3 linked regions of the Homo sapiens genome follow. The protein of the gene in region 3 purifies or fractionates together with the protein of the main gene of each other region. This does not show direct contact. Each region holds a gene or a part of one and is shown on either strand. Other genes may lie near its edges. The genes, in order: CENPF, UBASH3B and CCDC33.

Region 1 (7,107 bases), on a different chromosome or scaffold from region 3:
GCGCACCCTTCCCGCCAGCGGGCGTCCCCGGGCCCAGCTCCGGATGCGACCCTCCAGTCTCCCCACTCAGCCAAGTCAGTGGGTCAGGCCCAGGCTCCACACCAGTCCCGAGGGCCACCCCCAGCCCTCAACACCGCGGCGGTGGGCGAAGCCAGCGGCCCCACCCCGTTCCCTGGCGCTGCCGTTCCCTGGCGTTTCCTAGCTAGGATCTGTAGGGATCCCGCCTACGGAGTGGCCCTGGGGCGGAGGTAGGGGAGGCCCTGGCGCCTCTCCTCCTGATCACCCCTAGGTGCACACTGGGAACTGTGTGCCCCCCACATCCTGAATGCTTCACGCCTTCCTGCCCGGGTTAGAAAGCCGTTCCTGGTGCACTGGCCAGGACAGCGGACACTCTTCCTCCCTGCAGCCCTTGCCCACCCCCTTGGCCATGAGGAATTCAGGCAGCTGTGTCCCCAAATGTCTCCACCCAATTTTGGACTCTCGGAGTCCCCACGCCCAATGAGATGCCAGTGCAACCCAGGTCAGCATCGAGGGTCGTGGCTGCGGAGGTGGCACCCCCTCCCACCAGCACCTTCCCTTGGGAGTGGACAAGTCCTCGGCCACCTCAGCATCACCAGCTCCCACCCAGGGCCACCCCCACCCCCAGGTCACTGGTGTGCAGCCCGTGACCCAGCTGATCCAGCACCAGTTACAAGGCCTCCTCGTGCCCAGTCCCAACCACGCGGGACCCACCTGCCACCCTGCCCATGCCGGGACCCCACAACTCTCCTCCCACACGCTCCAGGCTCTGATCCCAGGCAGATGCCCTCTTGCAAGGCAGGAGCATGGGCAGGTGTGCGTCCCCTCTGCCTGGCATTCGGACTCCACCAGCAGGGCTGTCCCCCTCCCTGGCCTGGAATCCCAGCCTCCTGGCAGCACTCCACAGCTCGCCACTCACCCATGCCCCAAAGGATGCTGCCTGGCTTGTGCCTGTGGCCCCAGCTCTGCCTTAGCCTCCCTGGCCTGCTCCCTGGCAGCCATGGTCAGTAGTGTGCTGAGCCAGCCCAGCCCTGTCACCTGCTACCAGGCAGGAGCCCCCAGCTGCCACCTGGATGTCACCACTCAAACGAACAGGACACATCCCCAGTGGAGGCCCTGGGCATGCTCTGGCCTCCCCCTCACAGCTCTGGGCCTAGGTTCCTGCAGGACAAAGTGGCAGCAGGACAGATGGCCGAGCAGACAGAGCTCAGAGCTGGCCATGGCGGGTGTGACTCTGCCAGTGGCCCAGGCAGTAGAGACAGGAGGGGCCGAGGAAGTCGCATGAAGTGGTTGGTGTCAGCGCCCCACACTGCTGGGAGGCCCCTGGAGCCAGGGTGGTGCCAGGGGACCAGCTCCCAGGCCCACAGCAGGGACTGCCTGCAATATCACCAAGGCAACGAGGACCCCACCTCCCCAGGGCCTCTGACTTCTCAGAGCTATGCCTGGTCCCTGCGGGAGCAGGTCAGACCAGTGGGCTGGGCAGGGCCAGGACGAGACAGCCCCAGTGGATGGCGAGCAGGAAAGGTCACCAGAGGCCCACCCGGGTCTCCTCATCCAAAGCAGCACTGGCCCGGGCGGTGCTCAAACACCAGTGAAGGCCCCAGGCAAGCGCAGGGCTGGGGACCTGGATGACTAGGAGGGCTGGATCTGGAATGGAGGCTGGCCCAGACCTTGGATGTGTGCTGGGGGTCTGCACCTGACCCTGCAGGCCCTGCCCCAGGATGGCCAAGCTCCGCAGCCACAGGGCCTCATGGGCCAGGCCTCGGGACCTGGATGCAGCAGCCTCGCCTCACTTGGCCCCAAGTGCTGCCTCGGCCGATGGGGCCCCAGCCACACGTGCACAGACCCCCAGACACCACCCACTCCCTCCCGCCGGGTGGCATCCACGCCCCTGTGACAAGCTCAGCCCCTTCCCGTCCTCAGGCCAGGGGTTCCCAGGGAGCCTGGCTCCACAGGCCAGGGTGTGGAAGGACCGCCTGGCCACACCTCAGCCATGTGGAGGCTGCACCTGCACACCCAAGCTCGCCTGTCCGGCTCTCTGGCCCTGTGCATCCACTGTGGCTCCCCTCCTGCAGAGCCGCCCACCTTCCTCCCAGGGAAGCCCGCCCCCCGGCCCCCGGCCTGGTCCCCTCTTGGGTGTGCCCAGGCTGAGCTGCCCCCAGGGTTGCCCTCACCTGGTGCGCAGGGCCTGCCAGGCGGCGTCGATGTCGGCATAGAGGTTCCTCTCGGAAGGCCTACCCGAGCTGGCACCGTAGCCGGAGTAGTCGTAGGAGAAGATGTTGCAATGGAGGCGGGAGCCCAGGCCAATGTAGAAGCTGCTCATCTGGCCCAGGTCCACGGCATTGCTGTGCGAGAAGAGGACCGTGTACCTGGCACCAGTCACGCAGCGAACATACATGCAGGAGACGCGGTTGCGGCGGGCGCTCTTGGTGGGGAAGACCTCAATGGTGTCCAGCTCGCGCTGGCTGTACTGGAAGTCGGCGCGCTCCGTCAGGTGCAGCTTCCAGCGCCCGGGTGCGCCCGAGGAGGCCCGCAGGGTCCCCAAGGGGGCGGCCCCGGCCCCACCAGGCCCCGGCTCGGGCTCAGTCACCAAGGAATAGGTGGCCTCCGGCGGCAGGAAGGCGAGCTTGGCAGCGATGCGGCCGGGGCAGGGCGGGCAGCAGAAGAGGCAGCAGAGCTCACTCAGCGACAGCCCGTTCATGGCGGGCGCCGCCCGGGCCAGGCCCCCACCGGGGCCCCAGCCAACAACGCCGCCCGGCCTGGCCCGGCAGGGGAGGGGTGGGGGTGCTCCGAGTCGCGGGCAGGGGGGAGGGCGCCCCCCCAGCTACGGCCCCAGACGGCAGCCCCGTTAGGAGGCCAGGGCCCAGCCCCATCGCGGTCCAAGCCGAGCCCCAGGGAGCCTCGCAACCACAGGTCTCCATGTCACGCCGTGGGAAGCCCACCCCGGCCCGCGCCCCTGGGCCCCAGGGCCGCACTCCATGGCGCCTGGCCGCCTGCCCGTGCGTCCGTCGGTCCCTCCGCGCCCCGGCCGGCCTCCTGCATCGCCACCGCCGCAGCTCCCCCCGAAGAATCCGCTTTGAATCTCTAAGGTTGTACTGTATATGTCTTTCCTGGTCAGTGTCTGTCTGGAGCATGACTTTACCACCTTTTGCAGTGATTCTAGTACTAATACGGCATTCACTCTTCATTCATGCATGCATTCATTATTAAAAAATGATAACTGCTTGGAAGGAGATGGGCTACCTGTGCTGTGAGTAACTATGATGGGAAACTATGGCCGGGTCAGGGATCTCAGAAAAGTTTCCCAGAGGAAGAGGGACAAAGTGTGAGTGGTAATTAACCATGTGAAGAGGGAAAGAGGAGCATATGCAGAATATCTTGTCATGCATTTTCTTTGTTTATAGGACCTATTTCACCTGAAAACCTTATGGCAAAATATTATTTTTTTCTTAGCTTTTATTTTTGGTTCAGGGGTACACATGCAGGTTTGTTTTACAGGTAGACTCATGTCATGGGGGATTGTTGTACAGATTATTTTGTTGCCCAGGTACTAAGCCTAATACTCAATAGTTATTTTTTCTTCTGCTCTTCCTCCTCCAACTCTCCACCCTCAAGGAGGCCTCAGTGTCTGTTGTTCCCTTCTTTGTGTTCATTTGGTTTTCTGTTCTTGCATTAGTTTGCTAAGGATAATGGCCTCTAATTCCATCCATGTTCCTGCAAAAAACCATGATCTCATTCTTTTTTATGGCTGCATAGTATTCCATGGTATATGTGTACTACATTTTGTTTATCCAATCTGTCACTGATGGGCATTTAGATTGATTGCATGTCTTTGCTATTGTGAACAGTGCTGCAATGAACATTTGTGTGTGCATGTGCCTTTTTTTTTTTTTTTTTTGGTAGATAAGGGATTTTGCCATGTTGCCCAGGCTGGTCTCGAACTCCTGAGCTCAAGTTATCCACCTGCCTTGGCCTCCCAAAGTGTTGGGATTACAGGCATGAGCCACTGTGCCTGGCCATGCATGTGTCTTTATGGCTGAATGATTTATATTCCTCTGGGTATATACCCAGGAATGAGATTGCTGGGTTGAATGGTAGTTCTGTTTTTAGCTCTTTGAGGAATTGCCATACTGCTTTCCACAATGGTTGAACTAATTTGCACTCCCACCAAAAGTGTATAAGTGTTCCCTTCTCAACTTGGCCAGCATCTGTTATTTTTTAACTTTTTAATCATAGCCATTCTGACTGGTGTGAGATGGTATTTCATTGTGGTTTTAATTTGCATTTCTCTAATGATAGTGATATTGAGCTTTTTTTCATATGCTTGTTAGCCACATGTATTTTTTTTTTTTTTTTAGAAAAGTGTTCATGTCCTTTGCCTACTTTTTAATGGGGTTGTTGTTTTTCTCTTGTAAATTTAAGTTCCTTATAGATGCTGGATATTAGACCTTTATCAGATGCATAGTTTGTAAATATTTTCTCCCATTCTTTAGGTTGTCTTTTTACTCTGTTGAGTTTCTTTTGCTGTGCAGAAGCTCTTCAGTTTAATTAGATCTCATTTGTCAATTTTTGCTTTTGTTGTGATTGCTCTTAGTGTCTTTGTCATGAAATATTTGCCCATTCCTGTGTCCGGGATGGTATTGCCTAGGTTGTCTTCTGTGGTTTTTATAGTTTGGGGTTTTACATTTAAGTCTTTAATCCATCTTGAATTAATTTTTGTATATGGTGTAAGGAGGGGGTCCAGTTTCATTCTTCTGCATATGGCTAGCCAGCTATCTCATCATTTATTGAATAGGGAATCCTTTCCCCATTGTTTGTTTTTGTCAGCTTTGTCAAAGATCAGATGGTTGTAGGTGTGCGGCTTATTTCTGGGCTCTCTATTATGTTCCATTGGTCTATGTGTCTGATTTTGTACTAGTACCATGCTGTTTTGGTTACTGTAGCCCTGTAGTATAGTTTGAAGTAGGGTAACATGTTGCTGTCAGCTTTGTTCTTTTTGCTTAGGCTTGTCTTGGCTATTTGGGCTTATTTTTGGTTCCATATCAATTTTAAAATAGTTTTTTCTAGTTCTGTGAACAATGTCTTTGGTAGTTTGATAGGAATAGCATTGAATATGCAAATTGCTTTGGGCAGTATGGCCATTTCAATGATACTGATTCTTCATATTCATGAGCATGGGATGTTTTTCCATTTGTGTCACTCTGATTTCTTTGAGCAGTGTTTTCTAATTCTTTTTTTTTTTGAGATGGAGTTTCGCTCTTTGTTGCCCAGGATGGAGTGCAGTGGTGCGATCTCAGCTCACTGCAACCTCTGCCTCCCAAGTTCAAGTGATTCTCCTGTCTCAGCCTCCTGAGTAGCTGGGATTACAGGCGTCTGCCACCACACCCAGCTAATCTTTGTATTTTTAGTAGAGATGGGGTTTCACCATGTTGGCCAGGCTGGTCTTGAACTCCTGACCTCAGGTGATCTGCCCGCCTCAGCCTCCCAAAGTGCTGGGATTACAGGCGTGAGCCACTGAGCCCAGCCTTCTAATTCTTATTGTACAGATCTTTCACCTCCCTGGTTAGCTGTATTTCTAGGTGATTTATTCATATTGTGGCAATCGTGAATGAGATTGCATTTTTGATTTGGATCTTGGCTTGGCTGTTGTCAGTGTATAGGAATGCTAGTGATTTTTGTATATTGATTTTCGTATCCTGAGAGTTGGCTGAAGTTGTTTATCAACTGAAGGAGCTTTTGGGCCAAGACTATGGGGTTTTCTAGATGTAGGATCATGTTGTCTGCAAACAGGGGTAGTTTGACTTCCTCTCTTCCTATTTGGATGCCTTTTATTTCTTCCTCTTGCCTGGTTGCTCTGGCCAGGACTTCCAATAGTATGTTGAATAGGAGTAGTGGAAGAGGGCCTCCTTGCCAGTTTTCAAGGGGGGAATGCTTTCAGCTTTTGCCCATTCAGTATGATGTTGGCTGTGGGTTTGTCATAGATGGCTCTTATTATTTTGAGGTATGTTCCTTCAATACCTAATTTATTGAGAGTTTTTAACGTGAAGGGATGTTGAATTTTTAATGAAAGCTTTTCTGCATGAGATAATCATGTCATTTTTGTCTTTAGTTATGCTTATGTGATGAATCATATTTATTGATTTGCGTATGTTGAACCAACCGTAAATCCTGGCGATGAAGCCTACTTGATTATGGTGGATTAGCTTTTTGATGTGTTGCTGGACTTGGTTTGCAAGTATATTTTTGAGGAATTTTGCATCGTTGATCAAGGATATTGGCTTGAAGTTTTCTTTTTTTGTTGGGTCTCTGCCAGGTTTTGGTATCAGGATGATGCTGGCCTCATAGAATGAGTTGAGGAGGCGTCCCTCCTCCTTAATTTTTTTGGAAACCAGGGGTACAGACAAAGTACCCTGTACACCCAACAGTAATCCCACAGGAGAAGGCAGAGGCCCCAGGCCATTTAATCAGCAGCAAGGTGATTATGTGATATGTCTTTTCACAGTTGAGTTAGATGTACTCCACCAGTTATGATGGGAATCAATTTAAATATACTTTCTTGATCCCAGAAATTCAAGTATGTGGACAGGATGTTACACATGGCAGGATGATTGTTACAGCGCAACTAACATATTTCAAATGGACAAAAAATTAGTATAATTTACAGTATCTTAAGATAAATTTCCTTTGAATGGGAGCTTCCTTTCTAGTCCTTTGAGGTCTACAAGGCATATCTAGAAAATTTACTACTGTGGAAGATGAAGACTGTTTAAATTGAATGGGGGGCAGGAAGGGGAAGGGCCTATGGTTTTTCTTTTTGATTAACTGCTGTAACCCTGTCCTTCAGGCAGCTGAAGGAGTGTCACATTTTCTTTAGACATCATTAGGCACCAAAGCTCTTGTAGGACAACTTTGATGCTACATGAATTCTGCCATTTTGCTAGCACTGATATGGCTTTTTGGTCCACCACTCCATTACAACTATTAACCCTATTTATATTAATTTTTGTTACAAATCTTACAAAGGCAGGGTGCTTCTGGGCATTTAGGATACATTCTATTTTAAGGCTGTATACTTGATTTTCGTAAATC
Region 2 (7,107 bases), on a different chromosome or scaffold from region 3:
CTGGCTGGCATGGTGGGAGTTGCCCAGGGGATCCAGGCAACAAGTCATGACTGGGGGTCAATGATTTTGACAACACTCCCTGCCAAGTGCTTCTCAGTTCTCTGAGTCCCTCCTAAGGAAATATGTTCTCTCCACACTAACTGGAGTGTCTTACTTGGTTCTGAGTTATGAACCAAGACAAGTTGATGAAGCTGGGTGAGCTGCCTGGCCGCTTGGGCTTAGCACAGGCCTGGTGTGTTGCAGGGAGAAGCCAGCTCTCCCGATGCTTGAGATGTTCTGGATGTCAGGCCCGGCTTCCTCCCTCCACTGTTCTGAGCAAGAAGCATCTGACTGTTTTCTTACTGGAACTGGCAGCTCCACGCTGTCTCAGAGTGAGTCAGGTCCTTTGATTATAATGACAGTTAAGAAGGGAAAGAGGCTGGCATTCGTCTTGCCATGGGAGACGAAGGAGGGAGAGAAGGGATCCTATCAGTATCTTCACAGCTGCGATAAAGAAACAAACAGATATGTACAAGAACGATTCTAGGTAGCCAGACATTTTGCACCCTGAAGCTTTGATGAGTCAGACAATAAAACTGGATTTTCTTTTTTTTTTTCTTTTTTTTTTTTTTAATTTTTTCTGAGATGGAGTCTCACTCTGTTGCCCAGGCTGGAGCACAGTGGTGCAATGTTAGCTCACTGTAACCTCTGCCTTCTGGGTTCCAGTGATTCTCCTGCCTCAGCCCCCCGAGTAGCCAGGACTACAGGTGTGTGCCACCACGCCCAGCTAATTTTTGTATTTTGAATAGAGACGGGGTTTCACCACGTTGGCCAGGCTGGTCTTGAACTCCTAACCCCAGGTGATCTGCCTGCCTCGGCCTCTCAAAGTGCTAGAATTACAGACGTGAGCCGCTGTGCCCAGCCAAACTGGATTTTCTTGAACTGTGTGATGTTTGGGAGGGTCTTAGTTTAAAATAAAGTAGAATAGCTGGTCTATTATACTGTGTGAACGGCACAAGATTTCCTTGGGCTACAGTTACTTAAATTTTACTGTAACAGGTTTCACTTGGCAACATACGCAGATGGACTGATGCTGCTTTGTTGAACTGTAGGTTCCTGGGTCCCACCCCTGACCTACTGAGTCACAATGTGTGAGGAGCAGAACCCCAGCACGAGTGTATTTTTTTTAAGTCTCCTGGTGATTCTGATATGCACAAGGGTTCAAAATCAGTTTTTCAGGGCATGAGACTTCTGAGACTTCGTTTATAAGTAGATAGAATGAGTCTATCACTTCTAGTGAAAAAGGAGCCACTTCTGAAAGTGAAGGAACAAAAATTTACTAACAACCAGTTTGCTGTATTATATTGGTGAATATAAAAAGGTATTTTCAAAAATAAAATTATGGGCCAGGTGCAGTGGCTCACTCCTGTAATCCCAGCATGACTTTGGGAGGCCAAGCAGGCAGATCACCTGAGGTCAGGAGTTTGAGACCAGCCTGGCCAACATGGTGAAACCCCATCTCTACTAAAAATACAAAAATTAGCCGGGCGTGGTGACGCACGCCTGTAATCCCAGCTACTCCAGAGGCTGAGGCAGGAAAATCGCTTGAACCTGCAGGGTGGAGGTTGCAGTGAGCCCAGATCATGTCATTGCCCTTCAGCCTGGGCGACAAGAGCAATACTCCGTCTCTAAAATAAAATAAAATTCTGATAATACAATGTTAAAAGTGAATAATCCAGAACAGGTGGTAGCCTAAACGGGTTGCCTCATCAACAGATGCAAGCCAGGAGTATATGGAGCAAACTGGGATGGATGGCTACCCAAATTGTAAAGAAGCAAGAAATCTATAAAATTTAAATGTTTCCCCTGGACTCTGCTCAGTGATTCCAAAGATGTTCACTGGATTTGCCTAACAACCATATTTACATTGCAATGTTTATTAGATAAAGCTTTGTGGAAGTCTTAACTATTGACAATAATTTAAGCTTGGCAGGTTTTGACTGTCTTCCTTTCAGCAAGACCTCTTTTAGGCTTCTGTAGCTATAGTGTTACACTCAGAAATGACAGTTCTTGGCTCACAGCTCTAAACGTCTGGTGAGAATGGTCTTCTCTGAAATAATTCTATTTGTAATCATCTTGTTGGAGGCGTGATTGAGGGGGAGATAGGGTTTGGAGACCGAAGAGGGTAGAATAGGGGACTTTGGCACAAAGTTTCCTTGACTGTTAGGAGCCACTGGCTGAGGTGGAGATGGTGAAAATACCCCCCATCACTCTTCACTTCAGATGGAAATTACCACGGGAAATATTAAAGGCAACAGGGATCGTAGATTTCTTTTGAACCAGAAAAATAGCTGCAAACAGATCATTGATACGTTGTTATTCTTGAACTTGTCTTTGGTGCCAACCATGCATGGCACAAAATCACTAGGATCCATCCCTGCCCAAAGGAATGAATATATCTGTCCTCAGTGCAGAAATCCATCTACCTCTAATTTATTTATTTACTTATTTTTATTCTTATTTCTTTTTGAGACGGGGTTTCGCCGTATCGCCCGGGCTGGAGTGCAGTGGTGCGATCTTGGCTCACTACAACCTCCACCTCCCAGGTTCAAGAGATTCTCATACCTCAGCCTCCCTAGCAGCTGGGACTACAGGCACGCACAACCACGCCCAGCTGATTTTTTGTATTTTTAGTAGAGATGGGATTTCGCCACATTGGCCAGGCTGGTCTCAAACTCCTGACCTCAGGTGATCCGCCTGCCTCGGCGTCCCAAAGTGCAGGTGTGATCACCACACCCGGCCTACCTCTAATTTATTAACTGCAAGACTTCAGTATAAAACAAGGTATTTTTCCCTTAGGAATGAGGCCACTCCTGCTCAGCATCCCCCATCATTGTGCTACCCACAGAGGGCTTTGAGTTAACTCCCACACTCCTGTTGAGCCCAGGAGGAAGTGCTGATGACTGCTGGCCAGAGCAGTTAACACCTTCCTTATCTTCCTCTGCAGTTCTTATTCAATCTTAAATACATCGTCATCCAACTCTCTCACGTTTGGGGATGGAGTATTGGAGAGGCGGCCTTATGAGGACCAGGGGCTCGGGGAGACGACTCCTCTTACTATCATCTGCCAGCCCATGCAGGTAAGGCTGATTGCTAGGGTCACACCCCCAACTCTAACCAGGATTCACTGAGAACCTATTTATTAAGCATGAGGCCTTGCCCTTGCTGTCTCCAAAGCTTCCACGATCTCTTGGGAAGAAAGTACACCAAATTATAAAAGATATACAAAAATTCAAGGCTAGGAAGAGTCAGATGAGCAGTACTGACAGTTACTTCCAGCATTTGAACCTAGGTTCATAAGGAACGTTGTTCCACAGAGATAGGAGGAGAGTTTATCTCTAAAGTAGGAATAATGCCCATAGTTGTATCTGTTTTGTAGGTTGTTACAAAGATTAAAGAAAATAATAAAATTAGGCTCTTAGCACCATAACTGGCATATAATGAGTGCTCAGTATGTGTTAACTTTTTCAAGGAAGGTTGGAGATGGAAGGAGGCAGGGAGTCGTTGTTGAACAGTACAAATAGAGGCAAGCTGAAAGTTCAAGCATGTTGAGGATCAAGAGAGTAACCATTGTGGCTGGAGCCCAGGATTTAAATTAAGGAACAACAGGAAAAGAGATGGGAAGGATCATGCCACCGTTCCACATATTAACCACGTCAGGGCAACTAGAAGCAAATGTGAAGTGCTGGCCCGCGCTAAGGAAACTGGAAAAGCTGACTGCATCAGAAAGACGGAATGCAGAAACAGCTGTAAGGTTCCATCCAGCAGTTATAGAAGCCAAAGTCATTTGGACAAGCCTTTGACTAGATTTGCCTATGTCATCACCCAGAGGTAGCAGTTGTCTCATTTTGGGGATCATATATATAGTCAGACAGCAGAGGCTACATAGTGATTAGAATAGGAAAACAGGGTCTCATTACTGGAGCAGACCATGAGGACCATGTGGTCTGTCCACACACTTTAGAGAAGAGGTAGACACATTTGTGATCACAGAAGTCCTCACTCCCTGAAGAAGTTGATGAATTGCCCCTTTTTGGGGGGAAGGTGCCCCACTAGATGGCTCTCTCTACATGAATGGCTAGTTTTACCTCTGAGCTGTAACTTAAAGTGGACGTCATATTTTAGTGGCCACTTTAATGGCCAAATGCTACTCCTACAAAGAGCAGCCGTAGCAACAATAATGCCCTTTTCATAACCCTTCCTATTTTATAAAGCACATGCAGTTTATCTTATTCCAGCCTCCAAATAACTTATGAGGTCTGTAGGACGAGTCTTACTGTCCTCACCAAGTCATACCTTGGCAGAACTTTGGTAGTAGAGCTCAGCTCACCTGGCACCTGGCTCCAAGACATGTCCACTTTGCCATGTGTGTCTTCACTAATAGCCTTTCTTTCTCTGCAGCCGCTGAGGGTCAACAGCCAGCCCGGCCCCCAGAAGCGATGCCTTTTTGTGTGTCGGCATGGTGAGAGGATGGATGTTGTGTTTGGGAAGTACTGGCTGTCCCAGTGCTTCGATGCCAAAGGTGAGTTGGTGGTGGGCCTGCTCAGCACTGCCATACCCATAGTGGCCTCTAGGCGGCACAGTCAAGCTACAGTTATCTAGATGGAGTCATTCATAGTTTTGCGTACTATAGAAGATGTCTGTCATGTGTAAGCCCCTCCTGATTGTCTTGAGCTTTAGAGAAGAAGTAAGTGTTCTTGTCCCCATTCTATAAACTGGGATACCACGGACCAAAGAAGACAGATGTCTTGCCCCAGGTCATATGGCAAAGTCAGCAGCAGAAACGTGCCCTGATCCTATGGCCAGAGTTCCTGCCATTAAATCTCCCTGGCTCGCTCGGTTCCATTTTCATTTGAGTAGCATTTGAAGATACAGAGGCTTGCTTAACCAGGGAATCTCACCTGCTTTAAAGTGCCTGGTTATTACCTTCACTGAGAAACTACCTCATGTCACTTTTGTCAGTAGAATGGAAAAGTGGATTCCAAGTCACTTTATGAAACAAAATGTCAGCCTTGATATTTTCTATCAGCTCCAGAGAGCTCAGTGTGATCTCTTTGGCCAAGAAGGAATGGGGGTGGAGAGTGTCAGGATCAGTAAGGGAGTCCCAAGTAAACAAGAAATGTATGTATCCTCTGTCTAACCTCTTTGTTTTTCAGGCCGCTACATACGCACCAACCTGAACATGCCTCATAGTTTACCTCAGCGGAGTGGTGGTTTCCGAGATTACGAGAAAGATGCTCCCATCACTGTGTTTGGATGCATGCAAGCAAGACTAGTGGGTAAGTATCCTGGAGTGACTGCACTCCAGGCATTTCTTGCCTCCTCCTTCAAAACACTGGTACCATGGATATGCAAGACACTTCCTGTGGGTTTCTATAACTTTCCTACAAGTTTCCTCAATTCAAAAGGAACTTACTACACAACCATTAAGTTTAGGACACTGTGCTCAGCCCTGGGTTGGTTGACCAAAGTGAATGAGGTGTGGTCCTTATTGAGGAGCACGTGATCCAGTAATGGCGTGGGTTACTGTGCTCACTCTTGGATGTAGCAGACAGGTCAGCTTCTAGTTCAAGACAGCAGCATCTGCCAAACATGGCTGTGGAAGAGGACAAGAGTGAAGAAGATGGACCCTGGACTTGCTGAATTTGTAAAGGCCAACTGATCCTTTGAAGATGCCTAGCTCTTTGCAAGCCCATTCCATTACTGGCACGGGGAGATAGTATTTTCTGTTCAGTCACTTAGCAGATATTTAGTGCTCACTTACTTTGTGCAAGGTATTGGACTAGGGGAACCCAAGTGTGAGTCAGGGAAACAAACTTATGTGTGGATAAATATCATACAATATGATATACATAGAGCTATGCACTAATGTGTATGTATTGATTGCATGCATCCAGACATAGTGATATGCATAGAGCTATGCATGGTCACAGAATATTATGGGAACACAAAAAGACATCTAAGAGTGAAGAGGTGAGCTGAGAGCTGAAGTAGAAGTTAGCTGGGCAAAGAAGGAATAGGAGTGAGGAAATGGCATTCTCAGTGGGAGGGACCACATAAAGAGTCTTAGGCTTGAGAAACAGCCTCAGGAATGCAGGGGAAACAAAGTGTCTTGTGTCTAGAGTATAAATTGTGAGGCAAGGCAGAGATGAGGCTAGCAAGATGGATAAAGGCAAGTTCATGGAAGACCTTGGCCACCATATTAAGGTGTTTGGATTTAATCCAGTAGACAAAATAACTGGATTCCAGGCCAGGCGTGATGGCTCTCACCTATAATCTAGCACTTTGAGAGGCTGAGGCAAGAGGATTGCTTGAGACCTGGAGTTCGAGGCTGCACTGAGGTATGATCACACCCCTGCACTCCAGCCTGAGTGACAGAGCAAAACCCTATCTCTAAAAATTAAATTAAGAATAATAATAAATTTTTTAAAGAAGTGGATTTTATGAGGATAGCATTAAAGTATGAGGTGTTGGGATTTATCTCTGGTATCTAAAAATATGACATGTTGAGATTTTGGTTAGCACAGAATAAAATTAAAACAAGACCTAATATTCATAAAATAAATCCTCTTTCACAAACTTGAAGCCAAAGTATTGTCCTGTTTCTAAATATCTCCTAGCTAAAGCCTTTACCACTTGTTAGCACCAGAGGGAAGGGAAAGAAAAGACAAGAAGGGGCCAGGTGTGGTGGCTCACGCCTGTAATCCCAGCACTTTGGGAGGCTGAGGTAGGCGGATCACGAGGTCAAGAGATCGAGACCATTCTGGCCAACATGTTGAAACCCCATCTCTACTAAAAGTACAAAAATTAGCTGGGTGTGGTGGTGCGCGCCTGTACTCCCAGCTACTCGGGAGGCTGAGGCAGGAGAATGGCTTGAACCCGGGAGGCAGAGGTTGCAGTGAGCCGAGATCACACCACTGCACTCCAGCCTGGCGACAGAGCGAGACTCCATCTCAAAAAAAAAAAAAAAAGACAAGACAAGAAGGGCTCTGTCGCTTGCTCTCATAGGAACGCCGATGAGGGGTTTTGTTAGAAACTAACAAAGGCTGAAACTACTGGCTCTATGTG
Region 3 (7,107 bases):
AGCGCAGATCATGAGAAGAGACCAATCTGGCTATTCCCCTGAACCCAGCCATGTTCTGTGCGTGCACCCGCCCCCAACCTCATACTCAAACACACAGCCCTCCTGTCTGCCCTGACATGGGTCATAGCCTGCCTGTCTCCACCTCACACTTGTGCTATTGCTGTGTCCAACCTGTACCAACCCTTCCTCTGTTAAAAATTCAAGACTGCCGGCTGAGTGCAGTGGCTCATGCCTGTAATTCCAGCACTTTGGGAGGCCGAGGTGGACAGGTCACAAGGTCAGGAGTTTGAGACCAGCCTGGCCAACATGGTGAAACTCCATCTCTACTGAAAATACAAAAATTAGCCGGGCATGGTGGCGGGTGCCAGTAATCCCAGCTACCTGGGAGGCTGAGGCAGGAGAATTGCTTGAACCTGGGAGGCGGAGGTTGCTAGTGAGCCAAGATGGTGCCACTGCACTCCAGCCTGGGCAACAAGAGCAAGACTCTGTCTCAAAAAAAAAAAAAAAAATTCAAGACTGCCTTCCCTAATCCAGGCTTTACATCCCTCTCCTCTGATTAAAAAAAATTTTTCGCTGGGCGCAGTGACTCATGCCTGTAATCCCAGCCTTTTGGGAGGCCAAAGCGGGTGGATCACCTGAGGTCAGGAGTTCGAGACCAGCCTGGCCGACATGGTGAAACCCTGTCTCTACTAAAAGGATAAAAATTAGCCAGGCATGGTGGCATGTGCCTATAAGCCCAGCTACTCGAGAGGCTGAGGCAGGAGAATTGCTTGAACCCGGGAGGCAGAGGTTGCAGTGAGCCAAGACTGCGCCACTGCACTCCAGCCTGGGAGACAAGAGCGAGGCTCTGTCTCAAAAAAAATTTTTTTACTGGGTTAAAATATACGTAACACAACATTCACCATTGTAGCCATTTTTAATGTACAGTTCGGTAATGTTAAATGCATTCATTTGTTCGTATTGTTGTGTAACCATCACCACTATCTATTTCCAGGACTTTTCATCACTTGAAACGGAAACTAGGTACTTATGACCTGTAACTCCCCATTCTTCCCTTTCCCCAGCCCCTGTAGCCACTGTTCTACATTCTGACTCTGAATTTTCCTATTCTAGGTATCCCATATAAGTGGAATCATATATTTGTCCTTTTGTATCTTCTCCTCTGATGTGATAGCCCTGACAGGCCCTCCCAGTTTGTTATTAGATTATACATTATCTTGTGTTGATGTTCAACTTTTTCACCCACGTGACTCCCATCTTCACCAGACCAAGAGTTCCTGGAGGGCAGTTTCTCTGCCGCACAGGCGAGCACAGCACTGGGTATGCCGTGGGATTCAGTCAACTCTTACTCGATAGTCAAGGGAACTGCTGACTGACTCACTGAGTGAGTGAACAGTGAATGTGTGGGGTAGTTACAGGAAGCTGGAACCACTGGGGAGGAGACATACCTGAGGGCATCCGTTCTGGCTGACGCGAGGCACGTCAAAGTTCATCATGGACGGGATAGGGAAGGACAGTGGGGTGATGGGCAGCCCCACAGAGGCCAGGTCCCTGTTAGCCTGGCTGACCCTGGGGAGGCAGGGAGACAGGGTCAGTGCTCTGGGCTCTGCACCTGAGCCTGGCAGCCCAGGGCCCCCCGCTTAGACTCTGGGTTGATGCAAGAGAAGGGAGTTGCAGGGATCCCGCCGAGTTCGGGCCTGGACCTCACGACAAGTGGGGACCACTGGGCTGGGCGTGCATCAATCATCTTCCTTCCTCCAACAAGCAAGGGGGCTTCATAAGTCATAAAAACTCAACAGGAGATACAGAGAAGTAGGGGAGTCATCTTGGGCCATCAGGGCCAGTTGGAAGTGACCAAGACAGACCCTGACTCCCAGGAGTCGGTGCTGTGGCAGAGAGCACACGTTCATAGGGGAATTTCCCACTGTGTGGCAAAGTATGAATCTCCTCTTGAGGACTGTGACTCCAACAGACTCAAAAGGAGGTCTAGGGGAGGAGGGGATGAGTTGTGGCTGGGACCAGGGAGACCTCCAGGATGAGGAGGGAGGAGACTCCGCCCGGCAGGGCTAAAGGCTGTGAAGTTCCAAGATGGCCTTTGGGGCCAACCACTGGCTGGAGCCTGTGGCCCTGAGCTAGAGTGGGAGGGGGAGTGGGGAGGTGGTGGGTGTGAGGCAGGGAGGCAGGTTGGAGGGGCTGAGGTTCCCTGAGCAGGGAATGAGGACCCCTCTTGTTGTCCTCCCCACACTCTCTAGCTGTTAGGCCTGGTATCGGCACTCATCCCCACCACCTGCCCTCCAGCTTGCTCTCAGGAGAGGACTGAGCTGCCCCTTTCCAGGGGCCTGGGCTCTCCCTGGGGAAAGAAAGGCATGGTCTGCTGCAGGAAGCTTACTGGGACCTCAGACCCAATGGAGAGGCTTGAAGGGCCTTAGGGGTAGAGGGGTTGCCGGAGGTCCTGGAATCAGCCCATGGCAGCAATGACAGCCTCACCCCCTCCTCTGCCCTCTGCTCTGCCCTCCTCACCCAGGTCCACCTGGGCCCCACTCACTTAAATTCCTTGTAGTTGGGAACGACCCGGGCAATCACCACTATGGGGTTGGGGTTGTTGGCCAGGGGCTCGTTGACTCCCCGGAGAAAGATCTGGAGAGGAGAGGAGAGGAGGCAGGTGAACACCATGTGGCCTTGGGACCTTCCAGAGACAGCCAGCCAGACTGCCTACCCTCTTTTTCCCCATCCGTGAGCTCATGGCTGCCTCCACACTTGACACCTGCTTCTCCCTGTTCCCTGCCTTACTCGGTTCTTGCTTTGCACCAGGCTGCCCTCCCTCAGGAAGCCTTCTCTGCCGAGCTGAGGCAACTGCTCCCGCTTTCTGTCCTGGGATTTACCAATGGATCTCTTACACTAGTTTCTTTGGGGAGAAAGGGTACGATGAGAGTTGGGTCCTGGGAAGGGAGGTTGTGTTCTAACCTCGGCCCCTCCACTGGCTCCTGGGGAGGGGTTGGGCTAGGGGTAGGGCTAGGTGTTCCAGCTCCTTGGTTTCTGTCAGTCAAATGAGGCTCCTCCCAGGGCTGTGAGGGGTCTCTGATTAGATCGTTTGTGAGAGAGCACTTTATAAACTGAAGACAGGAAGCCCAGGTCTGGTTTCTCCGACCATGCTGAACTTCCTGAGATCAGCGGCCACAGCCAGGCTCCCCTTGCCTCCCTCGTGCCCATCACCCTGGTGCCTGCTCCACTGCTCACCCTGGTGCCTGCTCTCCTGCCTTGCTGGTTTCCCCAGGAAGTACTGGTTTGGAACAGGATCATAGCATCCGCATCTCTGGGCTCCTCTTTCTTCATCAGATCCCGGTTGTCACTCCCCTGACCGCCCTTGGTTGTTCCCTCCTCAGTCCTCTGTCACCCCCTAAAGGCTTCCCTGCCTCCCAGTCCTGACTGCCCTCTCCTCTACTCCAGGCTTCTATTGGCGCAGCTTTCAGAGAGCCGAGCGGGGTCCCAGCAGGAGGTTACAAAGCAGGAGTGGACAGCGTCACCTTGCTCCAACCCTCACTGACCCCCTGCTCAGTCTGGGCCTGGGGGACACTGGAAGGCAGACAGGGGAGACAGGGAGTCTGTCCCCATGCGCCTCTGCTGCCAGCCTAAGAGGCCCTGATCTCCCGGACCCTGACCCTCACCCTGTATCCACCAATGGCTCCCACTCTCCCTCAGCCCTCACCCACCTCCCACTCGGCTCTCATTCCTCTTGCTCCTTCGATTCCTCTGCCTCCTCACTAGCCTCTCCACTTCTGTTCCTTTCCCTAATCCATCCTCTTTCCCAGGCAATTTGACACATGATGGCAAAAGTGCTCTTGTTAAAAATGAACTGGGTCACGTTATTCCCTGCCCGACACCCCACAAGCCCCTCTGCCGTGTCTCCCGACAGGCCCCCAGCCCCTGTCTTCTTGCTCCAGACTCTTTTACTCCTGCCACTTACCCCTCTTATTTCTGCCACAGGGTCTTTGCACATGCTGATCCCTCTACTCAGACTCCCTGCAGCTCCCACCAACCCATTGTGGCTGGCGAGGGCCCAGGAGTGAGGCTTGTTCTGGATCATTCTCCCTTTTCTCCCTCCGCACCCTCCTTTCAGGCTCCTCTTTCAATACCCATCTCAGCTGGTTTTCCCACCTCTAACCCCACACAGGTGTGAGCTGATGGGCACGTACAATAGTCCTTAGGGCCTCGCAGCTCTCACTGAGGGCTCTGGAGACTGAATCCCTTCATCACATTCAAAGGATTGAATCTCTGATGGTACATTTCACACTTTGGATGGGTCTGGGGTCTGGGGCTGAGGGATTTCACTGGAGGCTGGCAGGCCCTATTGCTCACAGGCTCCCCAGCAGGTGTAAGACTAAAAAGGGGGTGGTGGCAGCTAATTTGCACCTGTTCTGTGTGGACTCTGATCAGGTGTGAATGAGACAGCTGCCCAAGTACACCTGCTCATGACAGCCTGGGAAGTAGCAGAAGTTCCTGCTCCTGCCATGCGCTCACCATCAGGAGCAGGCAGCTGCTCTGTGGCCATACCTGTCGCACGGATGGAGAGGGCATCTGTGCTGGGGCAGGAGAGTGGGCAGGGTGCTGTGAGCCAGAGAAGGCCCCTACTCTACCGCTCTACCAGGCAAGTCAGAGGGCTGGGTGGGGTGGGGCAGCTCCACAGCAGCCCTAAAGTTCTGCCTGTGTCTTGGGGATGTGGCCTCCTCCCTGTGGGGTGCGGCCTGGGGACAGCAAGGCCAGGCTGTTGCCCCTCTTCCTTGTTCTGTGTGTGTGTGAATTGCTGGCTGTCCTCAGGAAAGGGCGTGATAGAAGGTGGCGGGGAGCAGAGGGCGCCTGTAGGTCTGATATGCTGGCATCAGAGGGGTGGCTGTAGGGGAGTAGAAATGTGGGTTAGGAGTTTTGGCTCCCATACCATACTCCCCTTGGGTCTCAGTGTCCCTGGCTGTGAAAGAAGGCAAAAGAATGCTTCCTTCCCTGCCAGGCCCACGGTGCTGGTGGGAAGTAGGGGGGTGGGAAGGATAGGAACAGATCAGCCATGTTTGGGTAGGTGGAAGCTCAGAGCTTGGGTCCTGTGGCTCCCACCCTGATCATACTCAGGCCATAGCTGAATTTGAATCTGTCACCCATGGGCAGTTTGAAAGTTGGGGGGAATGGGAGAGGGGCCAGGTCCCTGCATCATGTCTGCTTTGAGCATCAAGAGTTCCTCCCAAAGCTGCTAATTGGCCTAGGGGGTGGATGGTGATGGGTCAAGGGGCAGTGGCCAGGCCCAAGGTGGGCTCAGCCCTGTCCTGGCTAATGGAAGAGGCTCTGTAAACAGTTGCTGGATGAATAAATGAATGAATAAACTAAATACCTAATCGCCAGACCAGTCAAACCTCTTTAGACACAGTGCTGAAGGAAAGCTCAAGGAGGCCCTAAACTTTTGCTTGGGGGCCAAGGCACTATCCCAGGAGGGGAAGAATAGAGCAGGAAACTGCTGGGCTGTGGGCTCAGGGGGAGCACGGGGCTTCTCCCCTGCCCCTAGCATAAGATTCGGGGAGACAGGCTCTGGTCCCCACTGCAGCACAGAGACGGTACACCAGGAGCAGCAGTGTGGCTGAGCCCCTCCCCGCCACCTCCAAGACAGAGAGGGAAGGAGAAGAGGCTTGAGCATCTTCATCCTTGTCATCCCTGCCAAAGGGCTTGTCTTCACAACTCCTTTTGCTATTTTGGAAAGGCCTGGTTGCTTTTTCCATTCTTGACATCTCTGCTCCACACCCTCAGGTCAGCCAGAGGGGGCTAAGGGCAAGGCGTGGGGCCTGCTCAAAGCTTGGCCCTTTCCCACCCCCACCACCACCCCAGAGGGCCCCAGCCCTGGTACCTCCAGAGCCATGTGGTTGCAGCCGATGTAGCGGGGTATGAAGCTGCTCTTCCGAACGACTGTTGCGTACAACTGGGTCTTGGCAGTGGCTTCATCGGCTTTCCCAGACTCAGTGGGCTGGAGACAGGGTTGGGGCAGAAGACACAGAGGAAGGAGAGTGTCTAAGGGGCAGATCCTGGCCATAAATCCAGCCCTCTGCAGACAATCACTTGGCATTGCTCCGCTGGGGCTCCGAGCTGATAATTAAAGCTCATGGTCCCTGTGAGCCCTTCCAAGGAGATCAATATAATAAATCTTCCCTTTTCCATTTGAATATTTCATCACCCTCACAAGGACCACTGCCTGTCTGCTTTCCAGTAAAGATGTGATAACAAGGCCTGGGTTGTAAGTGAACAGACAGCCAGGGGGCCTGGGTGATGCCCCCAGAATTACAGCTCAAGTGCTGAGTCTCCCAGGGTGAGTAGCACATCTCTCTTTTACTTCCCTGCATGGCCCATCCTGAAGCCCTGGGATTGGGGTTCCTCATGGGGCCTAAGAGAAGGTAAAGCCCCCTGGTGCCATGATTGAAGAAATGCTTAGAAGAAAGTTCAGTGCTGGCCCGGAGGAGGGATGGGGGAGGGTAACTGACCAAACTGAGCACCTACTGTATGCCAGGAACCTTGCCTATCATTGCTTGAGATCCTCAAAACGACTGTGCCAGCTTTGCCAGTGAGGATGGAGGCCTGGGGACCAAGTGGCTTCCATGGGTATCCAGCTAGGAGGCAACAAACTTGGTCTAGGACCCCCGACAGTCTGGCTTCACATTGTTCTTTACTCTCAACCACTTTCAGGGTCTGGAATGCACAGTGGGGAGGGGAATGTGATGCTTCTGTTCATCTCTGGCTCACTACCTGGCACATAGTAGGTGCTTCATAAGTCCTTGAGCAATGAGAGAGTGAATTCTACCCCTTACCCTTCAGCACTAGGAGGGAGGACAGGCAGGGGTCTGGCCTGGGAGGCCCAACCTTGGAGTGAGGAGCCTCAGGCCCCTCAGTCCATGGCTTGGACCCAGTTGCTCACTCCAGGGGTGCATTCCAGGGAATGCTTTATTCCATGTACCCCCCAACTCTCCTGGGCCTTCTGGCCAAGGCAGCATGTGGAGGCAGCTCAGAAGGAACTGGCTTGGGAGACAGCATGACTTGGGCTCACCCTCAACTCTGCCGCTCACTTGCTCTGTGACCCAGGAG

Evidence for each region.
Region 1: the proteins of CCDC33 (region 3) and CENPF purify together in Homo sapiens (affinity purification with mass spectrometry; 2 studies listed by BioGRID and IntAct, with this or other methods). This does not show direct contact.
Region 2: the proteins of CCDC33 (region 3) and UBASH3B purify together in Homo sapiens (affinity purification with mass spectrometry; 2 studies listed by BioGRID and IntAct, with this or other methods). This does not show direct contact.

Annotation. Positions count from the first base shown.
Region 1 is NC_000001.11:214,606,122-214,613,228, forward strand, and holds part of CENPF (centromere protein F), read left to right. Parts: intron 1-2,192; exon of another isoform or gene 2,193-3,082; intron 3,083-3,898; exon of another isoform or gene 3,899-7,107. UniProt on the Homo sapiens protein: Required for kinetochore function and chromosome segregation in mitosis. Required for kinetochore localization of dynein, LIS1, NDE1 and NDEL1.
Region 2 is NC_000011.10:122,791,716-122,798,822, forward strand, and holds part of UBASH3B (ubiquitin-associated and SH3 domain-containing protein B), read left to right. Parts: intron 1-2,986; coding exon 2,987-3,119; intron 3,120-4,440; coding exon 4,441-4,561; intron 4,562-5,195; coding exon 5,196-5,318; intron 5,319-7,107. UniProt on the Homo sapiens protein: Interferes with CBL-mediated down-regulation and degradation of receptor-type tyrosine kinases. Promotes accumulation of activated target receptors, such as T-cell receptors and EGFR, on the cell surface.
Region 3 is NC_000015.10:74,267,233-74,274,339, reverse strand, and holds part of CCDC33 (coiled-coil domain-containing protein 33), read right to left. Parts: intron 5,999-7,107; coding exon 5,882-5,998; intron 2,638-5,881; coding exon 2,546-2,637; intron 1,570-2,545; coding exon 1,449-1,569; intron 1-1,448.